2 separate regions of the Homo sapiens genome follow, and region 1 is linked to region 2. Evidence: fine-mapped expression QTL. A gene starts in region 2. The other region holds a variant in brackets. All regions are shown on one strand. Distances are from middle to middle. Region 1 holds the start of ASB9 (ankyrin repeat and SOCS box containing 9). Region 2 holds the start of PIGA (phosphatidylinositol glycan anchor biosynthesis class A).

Evidence for each region.
Region 1: its variant is fine-mapped to the expression of PIGA in fibroblasts (GTEx, PIP above 0.99).

What each region holds. Positions count from the first base shown.
Region 1 is chrX:15,263,774-15,275,932 of GRCh38, forward strand. It overlaps ASB9 (ankyrin repeat and SOCS box containing 9), which reads right to left and starts at 6,310. Exons shown (of 7, transcript NM_001031739.3): 1 at 6,008-6,310. The coding sequence starts at 6,101. The variant G/GA (reference allele first, on the strand shown) is at 6,729.
Region 2 is chrX:15,332,148-15,344,020 of GRCh38, forward strand. It overlaps PIGA (phosphatidylinositol glycan anchor biosynthesis class A), which reads right to left and starts at 3,376. Exons shown (of 6, transcript NM_002641.4): 1 at 3,354-3,376. RefSeq lists enhancers at 3,128-3,177, 3,228-3,307.

The sequences.
Region 1 (12,159 bases), 68 kb before region 2:
CTTCTGTTTAAATGTGAATACTCTCTACAGGGTGGGCTCAATTTTGCAAGGATAGAAATATCTCTACAGTTGTCAGTCTTCAGGCAAAACCCCAAAAGATAGACACTAACACTGGGAACAGTGATTACCTGCTTGGTGGAATTATGGGTGGTTAGTTTATCCTTCAATGTATTTTCCTAAGTTTCTATGAGTAGGTATAAATTAGCCTCCTAGGGATACCATAACGAAACACCACAAACTGGGTGGCTTAAAACAACAGAAATTTGTTGTCGCCGAGTCCTAGAGGCTAGCAGTTGGCTAGAAGTCTGAAATCAAGGTGTGGACAGGGCCATACTCTATCCAAAGGCTCTAGGGAAAAATCCTTCCTTGCCTCTTCTAGCTTCTGGCAGTGGCCATCAGTCCTTGGTGTTCCTTGGTTTCTAGATGTGTCACTCCTATCTCTGCCTCTGTTGTCACATAGCATTCTCCATGTGTCTCCTTCTCCTTTTCTTATAGGGACTCTGGTCATGTTGGATTAAGGTCCATCCTACCCTACTTACGACCTCACCTGAACTAATCTTAACTAATAAGGTCACATTCTGAGGCACGGGGGTTAAGAACTTAACCATATATATTTTCAGGGTACACAATTTAACTCGTAACAAGCTACTTTCAGGAAAAAATTAAGACATTCTTTCCCTGCTCCTTGGACAGGAGAGTCTAACATGAAACAAATCTCTATAAAGAGTTGGTTGCCCATTTTTATAGCCTTTCCTCCCTCCCTACCCCCAGGGAAGTGGGCAGAAAAACGCCTGCAGGTGGAGGTGGGAGCAGCAAGATGATCCACACCTGGGCCCTATTTTCCCCTCTAACTTGGCCTTGTGCAAAGGGACAAGCTTCACCTGAGCTGAGTTTCTTGGCACAGCTATTTGAAAACAGCATTCTGAGTGTTCCCCATTCCACACTTCACCAAGGTTAAGACCTCAGAAGCATAAACAAAAGCAACCAACTACAATTGAGGTTTTACCCAAGGGGCAGGACTGATGCAAAGCAGACGGAGAATGACTCCACTTGAGTAGGGAGAGGTGGAAAGTCTAGGAGGGCTTCATGGGGGCAATGGCTCAGCTGGGTGTAGAAGGTGAGTAGCAATTTGCCAGTCAGATTCACAACAGGAGGTAAGAAACCAGAAGTATCCAGGCACCTACCCTTGTGACTTCTACTTCTTTGAAAACTTCTCTTCCCTTAGCACCTGTGTAATTACAACATCCAGAATCTCTTTCTGCTTCTCTGTCCAACTTACTGGTCCTACTTCATCAACTGGAGGCCTGTCCCAGGGTTCCATCCTTGGTTGACTCTCAGCTCTTAGCCATTGGACAATTTCTCCCTTCCCTAGGTTTCAACCACAGCCCCTCTGTAGGACATTCTGAGGTATCTGGCTTCTAACCTGTGATCGTTCCTAAGTCTCAGTCCCATGTCATCATACTGTGCACTGGGCATCATTGTTAGCACTATCATGTCCAAAACAGAACTCTGTATCCTCCCCTCCTCATCCTGCATCCAAGGCAACTTCCTTTCCAACTTCCCTCTTATCTAGCTTATCTGACATTACTTTGGGCTTGAGAACCTTATAATTTTGCCTGCCTTCTGTTAGTTCCAACATTTAATCAAGCAACATACGCTGATTTATCTTTCCTTTGAAATCATCGCCCTTTCTCTGTCATTTCCAAAGTTCGATCCAAATGTAAGTTTCATGGTTGGATTAGTGCAGTAGTTTTCAAAGTATGGTCCCTGACCAGTACCATCCATTTCACCTGGGAGTTTGTTATGAATGCAGATTCCTAGGCCCCCACCCCAGGCCTACGACTTCATCAAAAGCTGCATCATCTGCATTTTTTTTTTTTGAGACAGAGTCTCGCTCTGTTGCCCAGGCTGGAGTACAGTGGCATGATCTCAGCTCACTGCAACCTCCGCCCTCCCAAGTTCAAGCAATTCTCCTGCCTCGGCCTCCTAAGTAGCTGGGACTACAGGCATGTGCCAACACACCCAGCTAATTTTTTTTTTTTTTTTTGAGACAGAGTTTCACTCTTGTTGCCCAGGTTGGAGTGCAGTGGTGTGATCTCGGCTCACCACAACCTCTGCCTCCCGGGTTCAAGCGACTTTCCTGCCTCAGCCTCCCGGGTAGCTGGGATTACAGGCATGCACCACCATGCCCGGCTAATTTTGTATTTTTAGTAAAGACTGGGTTTCTCCATGTTGGTCAGGCTGGTCTGGAACTCCCAACCTCAGGTGATCCGCCTGCCTCGGCCTCCCAAAGTGCTGGGATTACAGGTGTGAGGCACTGCACCCAGTCAAATGTTTGTATTTTTAGTAGAGATGGGGTTTCACCATGTTGGATAGGCTGGTCTGGAACTCCTGACCTCAAGTGATCCGCCCACCTCAGCCTCCCAAAGTGCTGGGATTACAGGCGTGAGCCACCGTGCCCAGCCAGAAGCTGCATTATCTGTATTTCAATAAGCTCTCCAGGTGATGTAGAGGCACATGAGAATTTGAGAACCACTGGATGAATGCAACCATCTCCCACGATTCCAACACAATCTATCCCAGCTGTGGCTACCATGTTAATTGACCTACAGCCTTATTACCAGGTCTCTGTTCTAGAACCACCAATGGCTCTCAATTTCCTGCCTCATGAAGCCTGACCTCCTCCACTTAGCTCTTCAAGCTTTATCTGCCACTCCATCTCTTCAAACTTGTTCTCACTAGACTCCCTAAGACATTCACATTTTGCACTCTAGCTGTAAAAACTTGTTGACTTTACAAGCACCATGCCTTTGCGTATAACACCTGCCCACTCCCACTCACCCACCCTGACCCCACCAGGGTTGTATTAGGAACTTTAGAAATCCTGAACAGTTGGCTCACGCCTGTAATCCCAGCACTTTGGGAGGCCAAGGTGGGTGGATCACGAGGTCAGGAGATTGAGACCATCCTGGCTAACATGGTGAAACCCCGTCTCTACTAAAAATACAAAAAATTAGCCGGGCGTGGTGGCGGGCGCCTGTAGTCCCAGCTACTCAGGAGGCTGAGGCAGGAGAATGGCGTGAACCCGGGAGGCGGAGCTTGCAGTGAGCCAAGATTGTGCCACTGCACTCCAGCCTGGGCGACAGAGCGAGACTCCATCTCAAAAAAAAAAAAAAAAAAGAAAAAGAAACCCTAACAGTGAAAAGTGGCTGGTGCCTCTCTCCCATGTGGAAACAAAAATAAATACAATACTTAGCTATAAAATAACCGTGCAGAAGTCAACCAAATTACCGATTCTTTCCCATAATGATTGGTTTGCTGTTTTAAAAATATATTTATCGGCCGGGCACAGTGGCTCACACCTGTAATCCTAGCACTTTGGGAGGCCGAGGCGGGCAGACTTCCCTGAGCTCAGGAGTTGGAGACCAGCCTGGGGCAACATGGTGAAACCCCGTCTCTACTAAAATACAAAAAAAAAACACCCCAAAAAATTAGCCAGGCGTGTGCCTGTAGTCCCACCTAGTCCCTGCCTCTCCCTCCTGAGGCAGAATTGCTTGAACCCAGGAGGCCGAGGTTGCAGTGAGCCGAGATGGTGCCACTGCACTCCAGCCTGGTAACAGAGCGAGACTCCATCTAAAAAAAAAATATATATATATATATAATTATATATATAATTCCTTGTAAAAAGTGGCCGGGCGTGGTGGCTCACGCCTGTAATCCCAGCACTTTGGGAGGCCAAGGCGGGCGGATCACGAGGTCAGGAGATTGAGACCATCCTGGCTAACATGGTGAAACCCCGTCTCTACTAAAAATACAAAAATCAGCTGGGTGTGGTGGCGGACGCCTGTAATCCCAGCTACTCAGGAGGCTGAGGCAGGAAAGTCGCTTGAACACGGGAAGGTGGAGTTTGCAGTGAGCTGAGATTGCTCCACTGCATTCCAGCCTGGGTGACAGAGTGAAACTCCACTTCAAAAAAAACAAAAAAAAAAAAAAAAAAAGAAATTCTTTGTGAAAAGTGATTTTTGATGCCACTCTTGCTTTCCTAGTTCTCCAAACTCATGCTCAATACATCTGCTGATTAATCCAGTTCTGCCTTTGTGGATCTAAATCCCACTCACCATTGAGTACTCTGCTCATTTTATAAGTGAAATTGGATAAATGAATGAATGAATGAGCAGGCTAGTCTACTCAGTCAAAGGGAAGACGTTTTGTGTTTTATTTCTTCCATTTTTACCTTTTTGGTACCTGTATAGTAGATTAATAAACCCTGACTGACGGCCGGGCGTGGTGGCTCACACCTGTAATCCCAGCACTTTGGGAGGCCCAGGCGGGCAGATCACCTGAGGTCAGGAGTTCTAGACCAGCCTGGCCAACGTGGTGAAACCCCGTCTCTACTAAAAATACAAAAATTAGCCGGGTGTGGTGGCGGGCGCTTATAATCCCAGCTACTCGGGAGGCTGAGGCAGGAGAATCTCTTGAACCCGGGAGGCAGAGGTTGCAGTGAGCGGAGATCTCGCCATTGCACTCCAGCCCAGGCGACAGAATGAGACTCCGTCTCAAAAAAACAAAACAAAACAAAACACCCTGACTTCAGGGTCCCTGTTTATTGCCCCTTTGATCAACAGGTGCTGTGGACAGTATACCAGGTATATATTTTTTTCTTTTTTCTTTGATACGGAGTCTCACTCTGTCGCCAGGCTGGAGTGCTGTGGCGAGATCTAGGTGCACTGCAACCTCCGCCTCCCGGGTTCAAGTGATTCTCCTGCCTCAGCCTCCCGAGTAGCTGGGATTACAGGCACGTGCCATCACACCCAGCTAATTTTTGTATTTTAGGTAGCGACGGAATTTCATCATGTTGGCCAGGATGGTATCCTGACATCGTGATCTGCCCGCCTCGGCCTCCGAAAGTACTGGGATTACAGGCGTAAACCACCGTGCCCCGCCTATATATACAGGCCTGAACCCGGGAGGCGGAGGTTGCAGTGAGTCGAGATCGCGCCACTGCACTCCAGCCTGGGCCACAGAGCAAGACTCCGTCTCAAAAAGAAAAAAAAATTAATAAATAATAAATACAGCAATTCAGCAGGGCTGCTGCAACACCAGCTTTCCCAGCTCTGGGTGCTGGGGCTTGTCTCCGTCACAAGCCCCCAAGGATCTCAACAGGGTGAACAACAGTTGCAGAAAGTGAGCTGTTGCCTTCACCCTCACCCTGCTGCTCCCTTTGCTCTCCGAAAGTTACGAACTTTGAGTTTCCTTCCCGATAAACTCCAAGGTTTCCTCACTGATTGGTCTCAGTTTGGGAAAGGACGTGACATCAGCAAGTTTGCAGACTTGGGGCTGGAGAGTTAACCAGTATATTACTAACCAATATACTATTATTTATAAGAACCTGTGTGCAAATGCCTAAACCCATTTTTCAGAATCCTTTCAGCCAACAGGCACCTGCTGAATGCTCACCGAAGTGTGTATTTGTGGGATTCTGTACATTAGCACAGACACCACTTGACAGATGAGAACAATACCTGTAAGATGATTCTCCAATGTTTTAAGTAAAACAAAGTCTCTTTTGTCTCTTTTGAAAGTGACTCAATCAGTGCTCAATGTTTGAACATCTTTATAAACCCTGCCCCACCTAAATGCCAAACACCTAAGACTTACAAATTAAAAAGTTTTAGCATTAAAAATTTTCCTATTTATAAGTAACTTTCAAACCTCCAATTTAATAAATAATGCATTTGACCCACAAAGAATGATTCCTGGGAGCTGAAATTTTCACTGGAGAATAATTTGTGACAATTGAATTTGTCTTGTCTGTAGGATTCTGCAGAAAGAAGTATACACATTTTTGAACAGCTGTGTAAAGAATATATACCAGTGAGCTGTGGACATCTGCCCAGTAACAGCCCCATGGACACCTCACACAGAGCCACTGAAACTGCCCAACCCTCCTCTCCTAAGCACATTAGCCAACCTCCCCAGGGCTGATTCCACTGCCCCTATGACTCACCGCCCATCAATGGGTTTGAAAGAAGCCTGATGCCAGGAAAGTCCCTTGGCCCCGCGGGCTTGCTCCCATCCATGCCCCCTTGTTTGCCATCCATGATGCTCTCTCCTAAGCGAGCAAGCTCTGCGCTCCACTTCAGTTGCTCAGCAAAGTCCAAACTCCATGCTCCCCCTGCTCCTGAAAAATTCCAGTTCTGTGGCTGGCTGAGCTGCACACGTTCTGGTCAAATGGTCTGCAGCAAAGCACAGAGCAGGCAGGGTAATCTGAGTGCTACCTGTGATCAGAGAGAGGCATGCGCTCGTGTACACACACACACACACACACACACACACACGTTTTACCTAACTGGCTGGAGGCCCGCCAGAGGCCACAAGAACCCTCCAGCCCTAAGTCTGCGAAGTTGCTGATGTCACGTCCTTTCCCAAACTGAGACCAATCAGTGAGGAAGCCTTGGAGTTTATCAGGAAGGAAACTCAGTTTGTAACTTTTGAGAGTGAAGGGAGCAGGGTGGGGGTGAAGGAAACAGCTCACTTTCTGCAACTGTTGTTCACCCTGCTGAGATCCGTTTGTTACATGGTAGCTTGTTATGGAGACAAGCCCGAGCACCCAGAGCTGAGAAAGCTGGTTTTGCAGCAGCCCTGCTGAATTGCTTGCACAGTAACATGCACAGCACGCCCTGGCCATCTGTACATGTGCTTTCAATTGTGCTGGGAGTTTCTTATGG[G/GA]AAATGTGTCTATATGTTACAAAAAATGTACCTTTGGAAAGAACCATTTGTTCCTTTCAGCTGCAAGAATTTCACTAAATGTCCTACCTCACCCCTCCTCCACTCATTTTAACTTCTAAATAAATAATGAACGGTTGCAATTGGAAAAATGGATTGCTAGGTGGCCTGAGATGTGGAAGAGACCTGCTATCTTTTCATTGTGAATTACTAAAATTTATTTTGTTAACGTTTTGCTGTTTTTGCTTATACAAAACATTAGGGGCCGGGCGCGGTGGCTCATGCCTGTAATCCCGGCACTTTGGGAGGCCAAGGCGGGCGGATCACGAGGTCAGGAGTTTGAGACCAGCCTGACTAACATAGTGAAACCCCGTCTCTACTAAAAATACAAAAAAATTAGCTGGGCCTGGTGGCAGGCGCCTGTAATCCCAGCTACTCGGGATGCTGAGGCAGGAGAATCGCTTGAACCCAGGAGGCAGAGGTTGCAGTGAGCCGAGATCATGCCACTGCACTCTAGCCCAGGCGACAGTGCGAGACTCCACCTCAAAAAAAAAAAAATTTGGATGTACTGTGTCCATGTCTTTTCAGATAAACCCAGTTGCCTCACACCCCTGGGTGCTACTTCAGGCTGACAGGCACCTCTAGACTCCCACCATTCCTCTCTTCCAGGTAGAAGAGGATTTTTCATCCCCATGGGGGAAGGCTCTGAGTTAAGTCTCAAGCATAGACTGGCTGTGAAGTGATTGCAGATTTGTCTTAATGCCAAAGATGAGGCCTAGATGTTTTAGATTTACGGAGTCTCAGTTAAAACATTTGGTGGCTGTTATTAACAGTTTGAGGGGTGTAATTCACGTTTTTAAAGGCATTTATATGCATACACATGTATGCACATTTATCAATTTACATTTTCCACATAAATGTACCTATATTATTCTTTTTTTTTTGAGACAGGGTCTCACTTTGTCACCTGGACTCGAGTGCCATGGTGTCATATCGGCTCACTGCAACTTTCACCTCCTGAGCTCAAGCAATTCTCCTGCCTCAGCCTCCTGAGTACCTGGGATTACAGGAGCGCACCACTGTGCCCAGCTAATTTTAGTATTTTTAGTAGAAACAGGGTTTCACCATGTTGGCCAGGCTGGCCTCAAACTCCTGATCTCACGTGATCCCCCTTCCTTGGCCTCCCAAAGTGCTAGGATTACAGGCGTGAGCCACCGCACCCGGCCCCTATATTATTCTATTATTCTATGCTTTTTACACTTATTTTGTCTGTGAGAGCTTTCCATATCAGCTTTTATAGGTATGCTCCTGTCTTTATTCACTGTTGCATAGCATTCCATATTGTGCCAGAAGTATTTAATTATGCTCCTAATGATGCAAGCAGAATGTCATTATTTCTGTTAGTACTATGAAAGGACTAAAGTTCATATTTTTGTACATGTGGCTTTGTGCACATAGGCAAATATTTCTAGAGGAGAGATTCCTAAGAGTGGAAATGCTAAGTCAAAGGCATACTTATGCACATGTAATAAATTGTATAAAACTGAAGACACACACAGGAATGAGTACAAGTAAAACCGGGGAATTGAATAAGATCAGTAGATTGTATGAATGTTGATTTCCCAGTTACAATATTGTACTATAGTTTTGCAAAAAGTCACCATTGAGGGAAACTGGGCAAAGTGCACTGGAGATCTCTATGTGATTTCTTACAACTGCATGTGAATCTGTAATGATCTCAATACAAATTGCACTTTTTGAAAAGAGGCTGCTCATTTAAAATTTGGATAAACACTACTAAACTTCCCTCTATCTCTATTTGCAGAATTAACTGAGAAGGCCATAAGCATACAAATTCTTTACCACTCCATCAGGAAAGATCTGAAGAATGATACATTTGTTTGGCAGAGAGTGAGGAATTGATTCCCAACACAGACTGGATGAGGAGTTGAACAGAAGGGCACAATGGGGAAACTGGATACTATTTCCTTTCCTTCCCAGTAAAATCTTTGTACTACAGCTTCTTTATTTACTTTTAATTAAATTCCAAGTAGATAAGCCTTTTCCATATTCAAAATTAAGTTCCAAAATGACAATAAAGAAGATTTCCAGGTTGTTTCCCTAGTACCTGGGAGGGAATTAATTCATCAGCCTTTAATCTTCTCATTTTATTTATGATGTTGATCAACACCAGTGAATAGGAGGATTGGAGATGAATTTTTAAACTGTTTAACAACAGTTCTTTACAAGGGGAGTTCATGCATTTGTGGATTTGTATGAGGATAAAGTTGAATCACATGTGTATGAGCTTTGATTATGGAGAAATTGGTTGGCTTACCAACAGCCATAAGAGAAAAGCAATCTTACCAACTTCTAGTCAGCCTTGGTGTGTGTCAGTGTGTGTGTCTGGATGTTCAGTGAAATTGGCACAGGTTAGGTTAGAAAACAGAATGATCGTTGCCTGCAGCAGATGATAAGGCCACAGTCATTCCTCACCAGGAGCAGTGTTCACACTAGCCAGGGCCTCTGCCCCACCCCTCACTTAGATGTCCAAGGCACACCTCAGGTATGGTTTAGGAGACTCTTTCCTCCCCAATGTAGCCGGCTCAAGTCCAGCTGCTAAGAGGCTGAAAACTTAAGAAGCGAGAGGTATGGTGAAAGGAAATCAACTTTATCTAAATGCTGCTGAGAGATGAAGCCAGCTGGAATTCCTGGGTGGAGTGGGGACTTGGAGAACTTTTGTGTCTAGCTAAAGAATTGTAAAAGGACCAATCAGCACTCCATAAAAACCCACCAATAGCGCTCTGTGTCTAGCTAAAGGATTGTAAACGCACCAATCAGCACTCTGTAAAAACGCACCAATCAGTGCTCTGTGTCTAGCTAAAGGATTGTAAGCGCACCAATCAGTACTCTGTAAAAATGCACCAATCAGCACTCTGTGTCTAGCTAAAGGATTGTAAATGCACCAATCAGCACTTAAAAACACGCCAATCAGCGCTCTGTGTCCAAAGGATTGTAAATGCACCAATTAGCACTCTGTAAAAACGCACCAATCGGTGCTCTGTGTCTAGCTAAAGGATTGTAAATGCACCAATCAGCACTCTGTAAAATGGACCAATCAGCGCTCTGTAAAATGGACCAATCTGCAGGATGTGGGCGGGGACAAATAAGGGAATAAAAGCTGGCCACCCCCCCAGCCAGCAGCAGCAACCTGCTCGGGTCTCCTTCCATGCTGTGGAAGCTTTGTTCTTTCACTCTCCAGAATAAATCTTGCTGCTGCTCACTCTTTGGGTCTGTGCCACCTTTAAGAGCTGTAACACTCACCACAAAGGTCCATGGTTTCATTCTTGAAGTCAGCAAGACCAAGAACCCACTGGAAGGAACCAACTCCGGACACATTACCAGTTGGAGAATGGCCTGCCTTTGAAAGACCGTTCCAACTTTTTGGGCTGAGTGAAGGGGTTTATGGAGGAAAAAGGTGTGGGAAAATGTGGGAATATCAAGGGAGGGAAGAGCTCTGTGTGTCTCTTTCCCATGGCTATCTTTACTAATCGCCAGCCCGGAAGTCCAGTTTGTGTCATCCTCACTTCTGCCCGGTAGTGGTGGGCTAACTGTTCATAACTCCCCCAAGCAGGAGGATTCTGCTGCTGGGTCTCTGTGCCTTTTTTTTTTTTTTTGCTTAAAAATTGACCCCTGGAATTTCTAAGCAAGCATGTAATTAGATAAGTGAGCACTGTTCACAAAAGTGCCTGGTGGAAAAGAGAGAAACAAAGAGTTTCAAAGTATGTTTCAACGCTGAAAGCAAGAAAGAAAAAAAAAAGTTTTAAAATGCATTTTGAGGCTGGGATGCTCAGTTACACTGAGACCTTGGGGGAGCCTTCAAAGTCACTTCCAATCAGTCAAAGTTGGTCCAGGAGCTGAAGCTTCTTCTTATTTCAGCTGGCAATTTTTCTAGCACAAAACCTTTAACACCTAAAAGGTATACATCTGCTCTGACAACGTGGAATACTCTGCTTCTACTGCTTTAGAGAGAAGTCAGTCAGTCCTACTCCGCCAAGCAGTACGATAAGACTCAAATAAGAATGTGTTTTTTCAAAAATCTGGCATTATGCAGTATTCTTGAGGAAACAATCAGGCGGATCAAAATTGAGAGATAATCACATAACAATGGGACTGGACTCTTCAAAAATGCCAATGGCATGAAAGTCAAAAGCGGGGACGGGAAGCTTTCTAGATTAAAAGAGAATAAAGAGACTTGGTAACTACGTTCGATGCATGATCCTCAAAGAGATCCTGAATGGTGGAACATGACAGAAAATATATCATTAATGCCACAAGTGTGAGAACTTAAATCTGGATATACAGGATAGTTGTGCATCAGTGTCAAACCTCCTGTGTGTGATTACTACACCACAGTTCCACAGGAGAATCTCTGTGTTCTTAGGAGATGCACACTGAACTGCTCTGTGCTGAACCATATGGGAGCAAGAGGCCAAAAGGGAAATGTATGCCTTTATGCATATTTTGCACCAAGTATAAAAAGTTAATGTAAGCTGCGCAGTCAAAACACAAGTATGTATAAAGCCTGCGTTGCCCAATCTGTTTGCATGGCATTGTCACTCCTCAAAAACCCAGCAGCCACATATCCCAGAACCAGAGGCTGATTGGAAACACTATTCTCATTGCACAATAATGCAGGGACATAAACAACAAGAGCCTGTCTTGCAGGCTATTTTGGCTATCATGGGCTTTTTGCCTTAACATTGACTTTTCAAAACAGTGCACTAAAATATGCACATCAATGACTTTTTTTGCCCTCTTAAATTTTTTGCCTCACTCACCTAATCCTGATTCTAGCCCTGGTGAAGGATCATGATGCCCACAACTTACAAATCGTTCATTTTTTTAATATATGGATATGTGTTAATCATATATGAGTTTACATATATGGGTGTGTGTGCACATGTGCATTTATATATGTATATATGTGTATACATTTGTATATGCATATGTATGTGTATACATGCCTGTATATGTATATGTGTGTATATATGCATGTACATGTATATACATACATGTACTTGTATATATGTGTGTGTGCATACACACATACATAGAGAAGCAAATGTAGCAAAATGCTAACAATTGGTGAATTGAGGTGATGGGCATACAGATATTAATTGTTTTATTGAAAATTTTTTGTAAGCTGGAAACTTCAAGATATAACAACGGTGGGAGAAGAAAAATTAATAAATGGAAATTAAGACCTGGTGTACATTTGTTTACAAGCAAATTTGTTAAAATAAGAAGCTACTATTTCAAGTATGATCTGTGTATTTGTCCTGGTACAGGCTCTGCTAAGGGAAGGAGATGATGTATTCCATATACAAATGGAATATATCCATGCAAGTGCCGCCCCTGGCAGTGATAATGC
Region 2 (11,873 bases):
CTTGCTTGGCATTTACATACAACAAAACTAGGTTCTACCATGTCTTAATTTTGCCCTAAAAATACTGCTACATGTAACTTTAAATAGTAAGTTTGTTACACCACAGCATATCATGGTTTACCACGTTAACAAACCAGTCTCTTCCAATAATTAAGTATATATACACACATACATACACACATTTATATATTTCCCCTTTACTCTTATACTTTACCAGCTTCTATTAATACTTATTAAATGGCCACTATACATCAGCTACTACATGCTAAGACTCTTCTATATCTTATTGCAGCCTCACCAAAACTCCATGAGTTATCAACTCCATCTTATAAATGGAAAGTCTAAAGCTTAAAGGGGTTAAGAAATTTGTTCAGTTATTCAGTGCTTAGAGGTAACACAATGTAGCAGTCTGATTCATTAGCGGTCATGTCTTCTGGTATTTATGCCCTTCTATAGTATAGTCCCTTCCCGTTGCATTTGGACCTGGTTTAGCCCATAGAAGGTAGTGAAAGTGATGTGCAAATTTTTGGCCTCGGCCTAAAAAAGGTGTGGTGATTTCCAAGGTGTGGTGGTTTTCACTTGTGCACTCTTAGATATCCTAAGCCAAAGTGTAAGGAATCCATCTACTGTGCTAGAGGGACAAGGGAAGAGATAATATGGAGAAGGAAGAGCTCTGAGACTACATGGAAAGAGCCAGAGGCCCAGCCATCCAGCCAACTTACCAGCTAAATGCAGCCTCCTAGTGACCACTGGCAAGACCAAGAGAACCACCCAGCTGAGCCTAGCTCACTGCAGTATCATGAAACATACCAAAATGGCTATTGTTTTACATCGTCTTGGGGTGGTTTGGTAAAAAATAACAGACAACTAAAACAGGCCAGGATCCAAACTCGGTTATACTGGTCCACTGCCTGTTTTTGTAAAGTTTTATAGGCTCATAGGTGTGCCCATTCATTTATGTGAATGGCTACTTTTGTGCTACAAGAGCAGAGTAGCTACAACAGAGACCATATGACCCACAGAGCTGAAAATATTTACCATCTGGTCCTCTACTAAAGTTTGCCAACCCCTGCTCTATAGCTTAGCCACTGATTCAATTACTCTCAAAGTTTTGCTAGCATTACCTTTGTGGTTTACACTAAAACACACCCGGAGCTCGAACTATCTTTTTGAGAGCACCTTTTTCAAATGTCACCAGAGCACATGCTGCACACATGTTCTCCTTCCTTATTCAAAGAGGGTGATTATTTAGGCCGGGTGCGGTGGCTCACGCCTGTAATCCTAGCACTTTGGGAGGCTGAGGTGGGTGGATCACCTGAGGTCAGGAGTTCAAGACCAGCCTGGCCAACATGAAGAAACCTCATCTCTATTAAAAATACAAAAATTAGCTGGGCGTGGTGGTGCCTGCCTGTGGTCCTAGCTACTCGGGAGGCTGAGGCAGGAGAACCGCTTGAACCCGGGAGTCCGAAGTTGCAGTGAGCCGAGATCGCGCCGCTGCACTCCAGCCAGGGTGACACAGCGAGACTCCATCTCAAAAAAACAAAACAAAACAAAAACAAAAAACAGAAACACAAAAACCAAAGAGGGTGATTATGTAACTGCTCCCTTCACTTTTTAAACTTTTCTATCAGTTATGCAGGCCTTTCAAACTCAATGAGTGTCCCTCCCTTCAGTGCGGTGTCTAAAGATAAAGGCTAAACTAGAGATGGGCTGTATCTGGGACCATTTTCTCAATTTAAAGTGCGAAATGTTTATCTCAGGGGTCCCCTAAAGCTTTATTAATGTGAAATGCCCACTCAATATTTAGTACTACTGTACATTCTTAGACACTTAAAGCTAAAAAGAATCTTGGATATCTAGTCAAAATCTTCCTCAGCTTTACAAATGAGATTTCCAAGGCTCCAGAAAACAAACAACTATACAATGAGAAGCCATCCTAAAGCTCTGAGTTTCCGGTTTCACCTGCAAACTCAGAAAATGCCAATTAACTGTATGTGCAAAGGCTTAACTGTCTAGTCTCTCCAACAAATTCATCTACTTTTTTTTTTTTTTTTTTTTTTTGAGACGGAGTCTCACTCTGTTGCCCAGGCTAGTGTGCAGTGGAGCGATCTCGTCTCACTGCAGCCTCTGCCTCCCGAGTTCAAGCGATTCTCCCACTTCAGCCTCCTGAATAGCTGGAATTACAGGCGCACACCACAAGCCCAGCTAATTTTTGTATTTTTAGTAGAGACGGGGTTTCATCATGTTGGCCAGGCTGGTCTCGAACCCCTGACCTCAGGTGATCCACCAGCCTCGGCCTCCCAAAGTGCTGGGATTACAGGTGTGAGCCACCGTGCCCGGCCTCATCTACATTTTAAATATACTCTCGGAAAGACCCCAGAAGTGTTTGTTGACTGAGTTTACTAATTAAGATTCAATATTACCAAATATTGAAATTCCCCAAGTTTGTACTTTTAGGTGGCTTAACTAACATTTTCTTACTGTGGTCACCTAAACCCGAACTTCCAGTTCTACCAGTTTTAAAAGATGAACGATAGCAAAAACAGTGAGTAATGAACCAAATGATATCATTTAAAATGTTGTCATTAGCCTGCAACGTTCTGTGAGGAGTCTGCCCACTTCCGCCAGGTTTTCAGTCCAAACATCTTTGACATAAAAGTTCATTATGCTGCACAATCGCAGAATCTTAGCTCTTAAAGCCGAAATGAGGCTTGGAGCTCTAGTGAATACCTCTCTCGTTTTACAAATGAGAACCCAGACAAGTTGAGTGATTTGTCCAAGGTTCCCACCCAGCCACTTAAAGTGGCAAAGACATTACCGTAAAATTCTCGACCACGACCAACGAGCCCTGGGCAATCATTAGCAGTAGAGGTTCCTGAAGAACCTTAGGGAGACCTGGCAGGAGTTGTGGGTCAAGAGAATGGTACTTCCACCGACAATTCCTGGGCACTGTCTGAGCTTCATTCCCTGATTCCCTGAGAGGTCGCTGGGGAAACGCTCGGGCCAAGGAGGGGATACCCCTGCTCAGACAGCGACCCCGCTGGGTTCATGGCGGGGATGGCCAGGCCCAAAGAGAGAAAGAAAACAACCAAAGAGTGGACGTTGGTCTCAGGCCCGGGGTTCCGGAGACCCCAGTCCCTCGACCCACCCGCCTGAGCCAAGGAACCCAGCGCGTCCGCCCTAAACGCACCCTCAGCCCCAACCTACTCTGGAGACCCTCCGACCCAACTTCCGGGCTTCGAACCGGGTCGGTTTCACCCCCTCCACCACCCGCCACGATCCCACGCGCGCAGAACAGCCCCATCCGAAAGCGGCCCAGAGCGCTGGAGAGGGGCGGCGCGACGCGCACTCACCGGTGAGTTCCATGGCCGCCAGTGTCCGGACCTCCCGCGGCTGCAGCCGGAGTCCCTCCCTGCTGTTCCGCAGCACCAATCTAGGGCGTCCGCGCCCAAGGGCCGCGCCCCCGAGGCAGCCAATCACAAAGAGGCGCTGAGGTCACGTCCGAGAGAGACGCTCTGTCGTCCCCACCCTTAAGCGCGAGATGTAACGTCAGCGCGCGCCTGCGCCCGTCTCCTAGAAGCGGCCGACGGTAGGGTGGGTGCTCACCCTGGTTTCCTGGTTACAGCGTCTCTATTCCGGACGCCAGTTCTCTGCGCGCTTGCTTCTGATTGGAGAGACTTTTTGTTTGTAATCAGCTGTGCCACGGCAAAACCGTGCCGGTTCTTACCGCTCTGGGACGTTTGCCAGATAAATAAATAAAAATACACAAAAAGTCAAAACAGATGAAACTATGAAGTTTTAATTTCAGATAAAGCACAAATGATGTTTAATACAAGCATGTACCAAATATTGGGGACTTCACTACACATTCGTTTTTTATCGGACATGTAAATTTAACTAGACATCCTGTTATTTATATGGCAATTCTACACTCTGAGGGAAACATACGAGGTCTGATCTGAAATATCAACTCCCACTCGACTGGTTCAACTAGTTACGATGGTGCTTGACTAGGAAGCTAAAGAATCAGTGAGAGTGGTATGACGGTCATCCATGCGTCACAGCTGGTACTTGGAATCCCCCATCCCTGCCATACGTGCGTTTTCGAGAAGAAATTCCTTTCTGAGTACCATCACAGCCACCGTTACTGGCACCCATTTTATTAAGCCTAGTGTAAGCCTATTCATCCCTGAAAATGTCTGCTCCTTTCTGATGCTTTCCCCAAGCCTCCAGAGAATGAAATACTCTCACTTTTTAATTTTAATAGTACTTTGGCCACATGCTGGCCAAAGTATAACATTTATCAGATGATATTCAAGTTGTTTGCCTGATTGCATTCTCCCTCCTCACCCTGATCCTTGATTACTTGTCTCTTGAGATCTCACATGGACTTCTTTCTGAAAACGGAAATTGTATTTGCTTGTTAAATGTCTGCCTTCCCTGCCAGATAGTAAACTGAGGCAGGATCTGTTCTTGGTAATGGATGTTGAGGAAGTTTTAGTTTAATACATGAATTTCTTTACCCAATGTCAGCACACTCCCTGACACATATTAGATGCTCACAATAAAATGTATTGACAGTATTTCGTGGAGTGTACCTTATACAAATTACAGTGCAATAACATCATTGAAAGAGCATTTTAGTTGTGAGATTTGAAGCGAATTAATGAGTTGATGAGTAAGACTAGAGTAGCAATCGATACTTTGCCCTGTGTTAATATTGATGAAGCATCGGAGAATTACAGTGATGAAGACTCAAGGACACTTAATTAAGCTTTATAATTTGTAGTTGGTTTCACAGATAACAGCGACATTACCAGATAGGTACAGCATTTGGCCTCCTTTCCATTTTTGTAATAGGTTTTAAGACAAAGAGTGGGGGTAGAAATCCTGGAAGGTATAAATGAGGGTTAAGCCTCACTTATTGAGCCCCTGGTTTGCCCCTGCCATAGTTCTGATCACAGTACACGTTTGAAATTCCACCATGAATCTTTTTTCAAAATATAACAAATATTTCTTATTTTTATCATCAAACATTTACTGGATGTCTGCTCTGTAAAAGGCCTTGTGGGGAATACAAGAAATATTAAGCATAGTCCCTGTGTTTCAACAGCTTTTTATTTTTTCTAGCTTTTCCTGTACATGTTATCAATAGTCAAAAGAAATCCACCTTTCTTAAAAGGTTCTTTGTGTTTCAAATATAGAATAGGCTGACCTTTATAAATAGATATTAATAGAGGCACACTGTTGCTGAGTCTCTGTGGGGGAGGGCGTTGAGGAGCCTGCAGGCTGTTCCAACAAAGTCTGAAAACATTGAACATTTATTTAAAGCTCCAGCTTCTGTCCTAGGCACTGAGCATTAAAAGATAAATAAATCATGATTCCGACTCCCAAGGGTTCATAATCTCACCTGGGTACATGACTTCATTTATAGTCAGTTAAGTAAAGGTCTCCATTTAAGGCTATATTCTAAAAAGTCAAAAGAAATTTGTAGTAGCAAGATTAAGATATAAATCTGGAGATGATTCTAATTATGGTGTCCTGCCTTAATGTATGGTCTCAAGGTATGTCTTGAGAGAATTTTCTCCGGAACCACTAAAATTAGACTAAGATACTTACATGCATTATATTCTGATTGCACTTAATAAAATATGAGGGCAATTGGTACCAGTTTTAGTATTAAACGACCTGAGATGATGAAGATGTAAAATAAATGTAGATATCATCTTCCCTTGAAATTCAGTTTTTGCAACTTCATATGTAAATTAGCTCTTTGGGATAATCTTGGAGTGCGAAGGCAACAAACATGTCTTGAGAGCCTACTATCTGTGTACAAAGCACGATGCAGAGAAAACCTGGCATGAGCTTTACTTGCAAGGAAACAATACAGAGTTAAGGCATATGTAAATATCTACGATAAAAAGCAGGAAGTGATAAATGCCATAAGAGAAATATAAGAAAAATATTGGGAGTTCAAAGGGGAAGAGTATTTCTAGCTGCCAGCATTTAGCTAGAAGAATAAGTAGATGGTGTCATGCAACTCTTGGGAACAGGGTAATTCCAAGAACAACATGAATGAGGTACAGACAGGTGCTGTCCAGCAAACACTGCTTTGTAATCACAAAGGAAAAGAGAAGGGAAAGTGGGCAGACAGAAGAAGAGTGGCATTATCAATGAAGGTTAGAGCAAACTGGTAGAAGATATTACTAAGGAAAATGGGCTTGATGTTGAGGCGGACTTCCAGCCAAGATCACATTTTCAATTAGTATTTTGAGACTCCTAACTCCTGATTCTGCTTCAAATATAACAATAAGTGATACAATATAAATGAGAAAATTTAATGTTTTACCTGTGATTTAAACAAGAAGATAAACATTTCCGTGTATCAGAAACAGAACCAATACGCAAAATGGTGATCAGGAACAAAGCCACCTAGGTCCTGGATTCTGTATGTGGCAGCAGGAAGATGTGAACCAGGGTTCAGCCCCTGTAGAATAATAGACTAACAGGGTTCCATGTGTGGCTTGATACAGGAACCAGTTTTGTGAGAGACTGTTACAACGGTGACCTTCAATAAACCAGTATTCCATATTGGCAGCCTTGTCTAATCCTCTCCCACATTGGCTCTGGGTTTGAGCATGTGACTGGAATGGCCAAATGAGATGCCACAGATGCTTAATAAGTGTTTATTTACTGGGATGCATCTTGTTGGAACCTTTCCTCTTGAAAGCCAATGACCATGCTGTGAAGCTCAGACAAGATATTGGATAATGGCAAGCCACATGGAGAGAAGCCCTGAAGAATGAGAGGTCATCTTGGGCATTCCAGCAGTAAGTGAGTTCCCAATTTAATATAACCACTGGAGTGACTTCAGCCTATACTATGTGGAAAGAACCACTTAGCTGATCCTAACTAACCCACAGAATTATGAGAAATAATAAATCGTTATTGTCTCAAAACATTAAGTTTTTGGGTGATTTGTTACATAGCAATAGATAACCAAGCCTTATTGCTTAACCATCTCCCCTACTTGTGAATAGACATTGAAAGAATTTTTTGCCAACAGTCTGAGGATATAACTTTGCTAACAGAACTGAGCCAAGCAACATAATTTGCAATTTTCCACTATCACTGCTAGTCTGGGGGATATAAGCACACACACACACACACACACACACACACACACATACACACACACACACACGGGGAGAGGAGAGAGTGAGAGTGAGAGCGAGAGAGAGAGAGCTCTCAAGATTGGTTTATAAACCAAAATTCAAAAACAATGGAAGATATATAATATTAAGAAAGACAACACACAAATGTAACAATGGAAGAAGAATTCACTCTAGACGCAATTCAAATAATTTTTGAAATGACATTTTTAAAAGAATAAGAATTTGGAAATAAAAACATGCAGAAATTAAACAAACACCAGTGGATATAAAAGAATCAATTAGATACCTTGAACATGAAGATGTTACTAGCATTTTTAAAACTCATATTGATAAGCTTTAGGCTACACACTGTTGAAACAAAGGTTAGTGTGGTGGAAAAGAGTAACTAAGGCAGTTACTTCTTTTTGATGCAGAATATGAGATGAAATGTCAAACCACAATCAAAGCTTTGTCCTAGGAAAATTGTTCCAAGAACTGGAGAAAAGGAAGGTGAAAGAGTGGCACAGCTGGAGAAGAGACCAGTTAGGCTGTTCCAGTAGTCCAGAAGCCTCCTTGCAATTTAAAGTAGGGGCTGCAGATCAGCAACAGCAACTGGGAGCTGGTCAGAAGTGCAGACTCTCAGATTCTCCAGACCTGCTAAATCTGAATCTGCAATTTAACAAGATCTGGAATGATAGTATGCACATTATAGCTTAAGAAACTAGCTCTAGACTAGAGGCAATGAGGACCTGATGTTTTCTCGTGGCAATAAAAAAAAAGAGAGAGACAAGGAAAATCACAGGATATTGGGATTTGTTTGAGTGATGTCTTCCTTTTCGTTTTAGCACCCTTTTTTGAAGACCGTCCTCCAGTAGCCTCCTAAAGAAGACTGCATGGGAGATCGGGAGATTTTCTAAGAACTTTAATGTCTGAAAATTTATTTTTCAGCCCTCCAATTTTATTGATAGTTTGGGTGCCAAATAGTAGGCCAGAAATTATTTTCCTTCAGAAGTTTAGCAGCATTGCTCTAGCCTGCTAGCTTTTGGTGTTGCTATTGAGAAAACTAATTTCATTCGGATTCCTGGCCCTTTGTTTGAAGTTATCATAATTTTTCTTTACTCTGGAAACTTATACATTATCTCTTAGTCTCCCGTGTCCTGAAATTTCATCATTTTGTGCCTTGGTATAGGCATAGTTTCACCTTTTGGACTAGGGACTCAGAGAGCCTTTTCACTTGCCAACTCATGTGCTTCGAAATTCTCTTGAATTTTTAAATTGTTGATTACATCTCCTATTGTGTCTCTTCTCATTTCCTGTAACTTCAGTTATTCTGATGTTAGACCTTCTTATCTTTTCACTTTTAATTTCTTATTTATTCTACTTCATAGGAAATTTCTTCAACTCTGTCTTCCTTTTTTGTTCTATTGAATTTTCAATTTATTATAATAGTTTTAGTTTCCTAGGGCTCAATTATGTCCTCTGACATTTTCTTTTTTAATAACACCTTCATTTTATTTATTAGTTGCACTGTCTCACCTTCTTCCCTCATCCCCTGGCTATTAATGATTTGAAGTTTTCTTCTGTTTCCTCCAAATTGCCTTTTTCTGTGTGTTTTACTCTCTGTCTTTCATGTTAGAAATTTTCCCTGGAGGTCTGGGAATTCATGCTTGCTTGCTCATACTTAAAAGAAAGGGACAAAGGAGCTGATCTGAGGTCTGAGCCCAGGAATGGGGCTTGATGACCTCTTTGGGCTGTTCCATTTGATAGTCCCTCCCCCAGCTAATTTCAGTCCTTTTTAGGTCTTTTCTCTTAGGCTGGTAAGATTCCCCCTAGAGAAATACTTTTCCAGTACAGATCCAACTGCCTGAATTGTGGTTGCACCTAGTATGTACGCGTTCACTTAATCCTCTTGTTAGTTCAGCACCCTGCCCTCATGGATGTCAGGCATCCCCCATTCAGGATGCTCTCTCTTTTACCTTAGCCAAACGACTAATAACCCATCTTTTGCCTGGGGTTGGAAGGAGCAGTCACTCCACCACAGGGAATGTGGGAGAAGATTTGGGATCAAACTGTTTCTTATACAGATTTTTGGAATGAACCTCATTTTAGCACCCCTCTCATCCCTCCCATTTCTAGAGGTGCTTGGGACACCCACTTCTGAGCCTTTTGGGAACTCATCTTTCCAGACTGTTGGCTTAAATTATTTTTTTTTTCAGGTCGGCCACATCATTTACAACTTATCTACGTGCTTTTCAGCTTTCAGAACATTGTTGTTTCTGTTGACTTTATCATTTACCCTGTCCTTGCGGGCTTATGCTTTAAAAAAAAAAAAAAAATCCTGGTCCGGGTGCGGTGGCTCACGCCTGTAATCCCAGCACTTTGGGAGGCCGAGGCGGGTGGATCACAAGGTCAGGAGATCGAGACCATCCTGGCTAACATAGTGAAACTCCGTTTCTACTAAAAAATACAAAAATTAGCTAGGCATGGTGGCGGGTGCCTGTAGCCTGTAATCTCAGCTACTCAGGAGGCTGAGGCAGCAGAATCACTTGAACTTGGGAGGCAGAGGTTGCAGTGAGCCAAGATTGTGCCACTGCACTCCAGCCTGGGTGACAGAGTGAGACTCTGTCTCAAAAAAAAAAAAAAAAATCCCCTTACTCTTTAGGAGTATTTACTTTACCCAGGGCATTGGAAAAAAGAGAAAAAACAAACAAACAAAAAAAAAACTAATATGTTTATGCACTATCTCTATTTAGAGTCCACGCCATCAACACTAACATTTTAGAGCTATACCACAAACATAACTAGAACCCATCAATAAATGTATCCATGACTTTATTTGAATTGTGGAAACCTGAAATTTAAATCACTGTAACTTTTTAGCTTCATTGGGTTGCACACTACACAATGACTCAAATAAGGTGAGGCCAGTTGATTCCAACAATCGATCAAGGCCAGGTAAAAGTGCCATTTCTTATAGGGGTTCAAGAAGCAGTCTAATTCATTATATTTAATGTTCATTGATGACGTGATAAAATAAGAAATATTTTTACACAAGCGGTTGGCTAACTTTTTCTGTAATGGACCAAAGAGTAAATATTTTAGGCATTGCAAGCCAAACAGTCTCTGTCCCCAACTACTCAACTCTGCTGTTGTAGAATAAAAGTAGCCATAGACAATACATCAACAAATGAGCATAACTGTGTTCCAATAAAGCAGTATTTACCAAAACAACAGGCAGTGAGCTGAAAGTGGCCTATGGGCCATAGCTTACTGACCACTGTTTCAGAACAATATCAGTGATAAAATTACCAAAGGCAGACTTTCTTTCATGAAGCCATTAATAAGGGTCAAATAACAGAATTTTTTTGCTCCTTTTCATTTCATAAATATTTTGAGAATAGATTAAATTCCTTTCTAGAGTTGCAACATCTGAATAATTCAGACATGCATATAATTTAGCTGAGTTTGAAAAACATGAGCTATGTAAAATTACTCTTCACTTTTTAAAGAGATAATTTCATTGGCTGGCCACAAAATCAATGTAATAACTTATTATTTATTAAATATTTATTGAGTACCTAATATATGCAAGACATTGTTCTCACACTGAGGATTAAGACTAAATTAGGCAAAGTCCAGCTCTTGCTGACCAAATCTATTAAGCTCACAATTTTCACTGAACTATGGCTTTTCTTAAGGGCATTAAAACGTAATGTTTGTATAATTTCCTTTATCAAGTCTCTCAGACAGTATTTTAATCTTCATTCAACTCTGATCATCATGCTGCCTAATCTGTTTCCATCTCTAAAGGGCCTCCTGCCACACTGTTTTAGTCATAGATTTATGACGTGTGCTGTCACATTAATAATTCTCTGGCCCTGTGGCGTAATCAGGGACATCATGCATTGCTGGCATTTATTGTGTTTGCTTAAAGCTCTTGGAGTTTCTCACATACTTTTATTTTGCAACAAGTTGAGGATTTTCAACTCACGTTCCAGGGCTGTTAGTATGACAAATATTCCTGTGCAATGTCTAGTGAACTCTAAGAAAGCAACAGGCCAGTTACCCCACCTCCGCCCTCAAGGACCAGACCCATCCTGACCCAGCGTCAGGGATCCAAGTGCAGATCTTGATGGTAATTGGGAATTAAGGAGGAAGAAGAGGGAGGGGTTTTAGAAGCACAAAGCCAGATCACATTGAGTTTTGGCTTAGCTTAGAATTCCCTATGATAATCTCCATCTAAATGGCAATTATGAAGCCAGAGGCATTTCGAGCCAAAACATGGTTTGAGTTGGTTTTAGGACAGATCCAAGGATCCAGTATAAGCCAAGAACATCTCAGAGGTCCCAAGCTTCTGAGATTTGCTCAGTCTTGCTTTTTTCCTTCAGAATAATTCCTTTGAGCTATAAGGTACATTGTATTGTTCAATTTTTTTTTTTCACTAATCGTAACTCTAATGAAATTATCAATTCTGAGATTTAGGGAAATGAGATTATCATTTACATTTGACAGATGAGAAAACTGAGGCTCGATGACATTGTTCAGGCTTACAATGTGTTTAGGTGGCAGAGTCTGTCCTTAAATTCAGGTCTTTTCTCCTTAGTGATACATCCCCTCTTTTTACCAGTCGAGGATAAGCAAAGTAACTCCTTTAATTGTGTGGTATCCTTGAATTGTCTTCTGCCCCAGATCTCAAAGGAATTTAAGCAAATATCATGG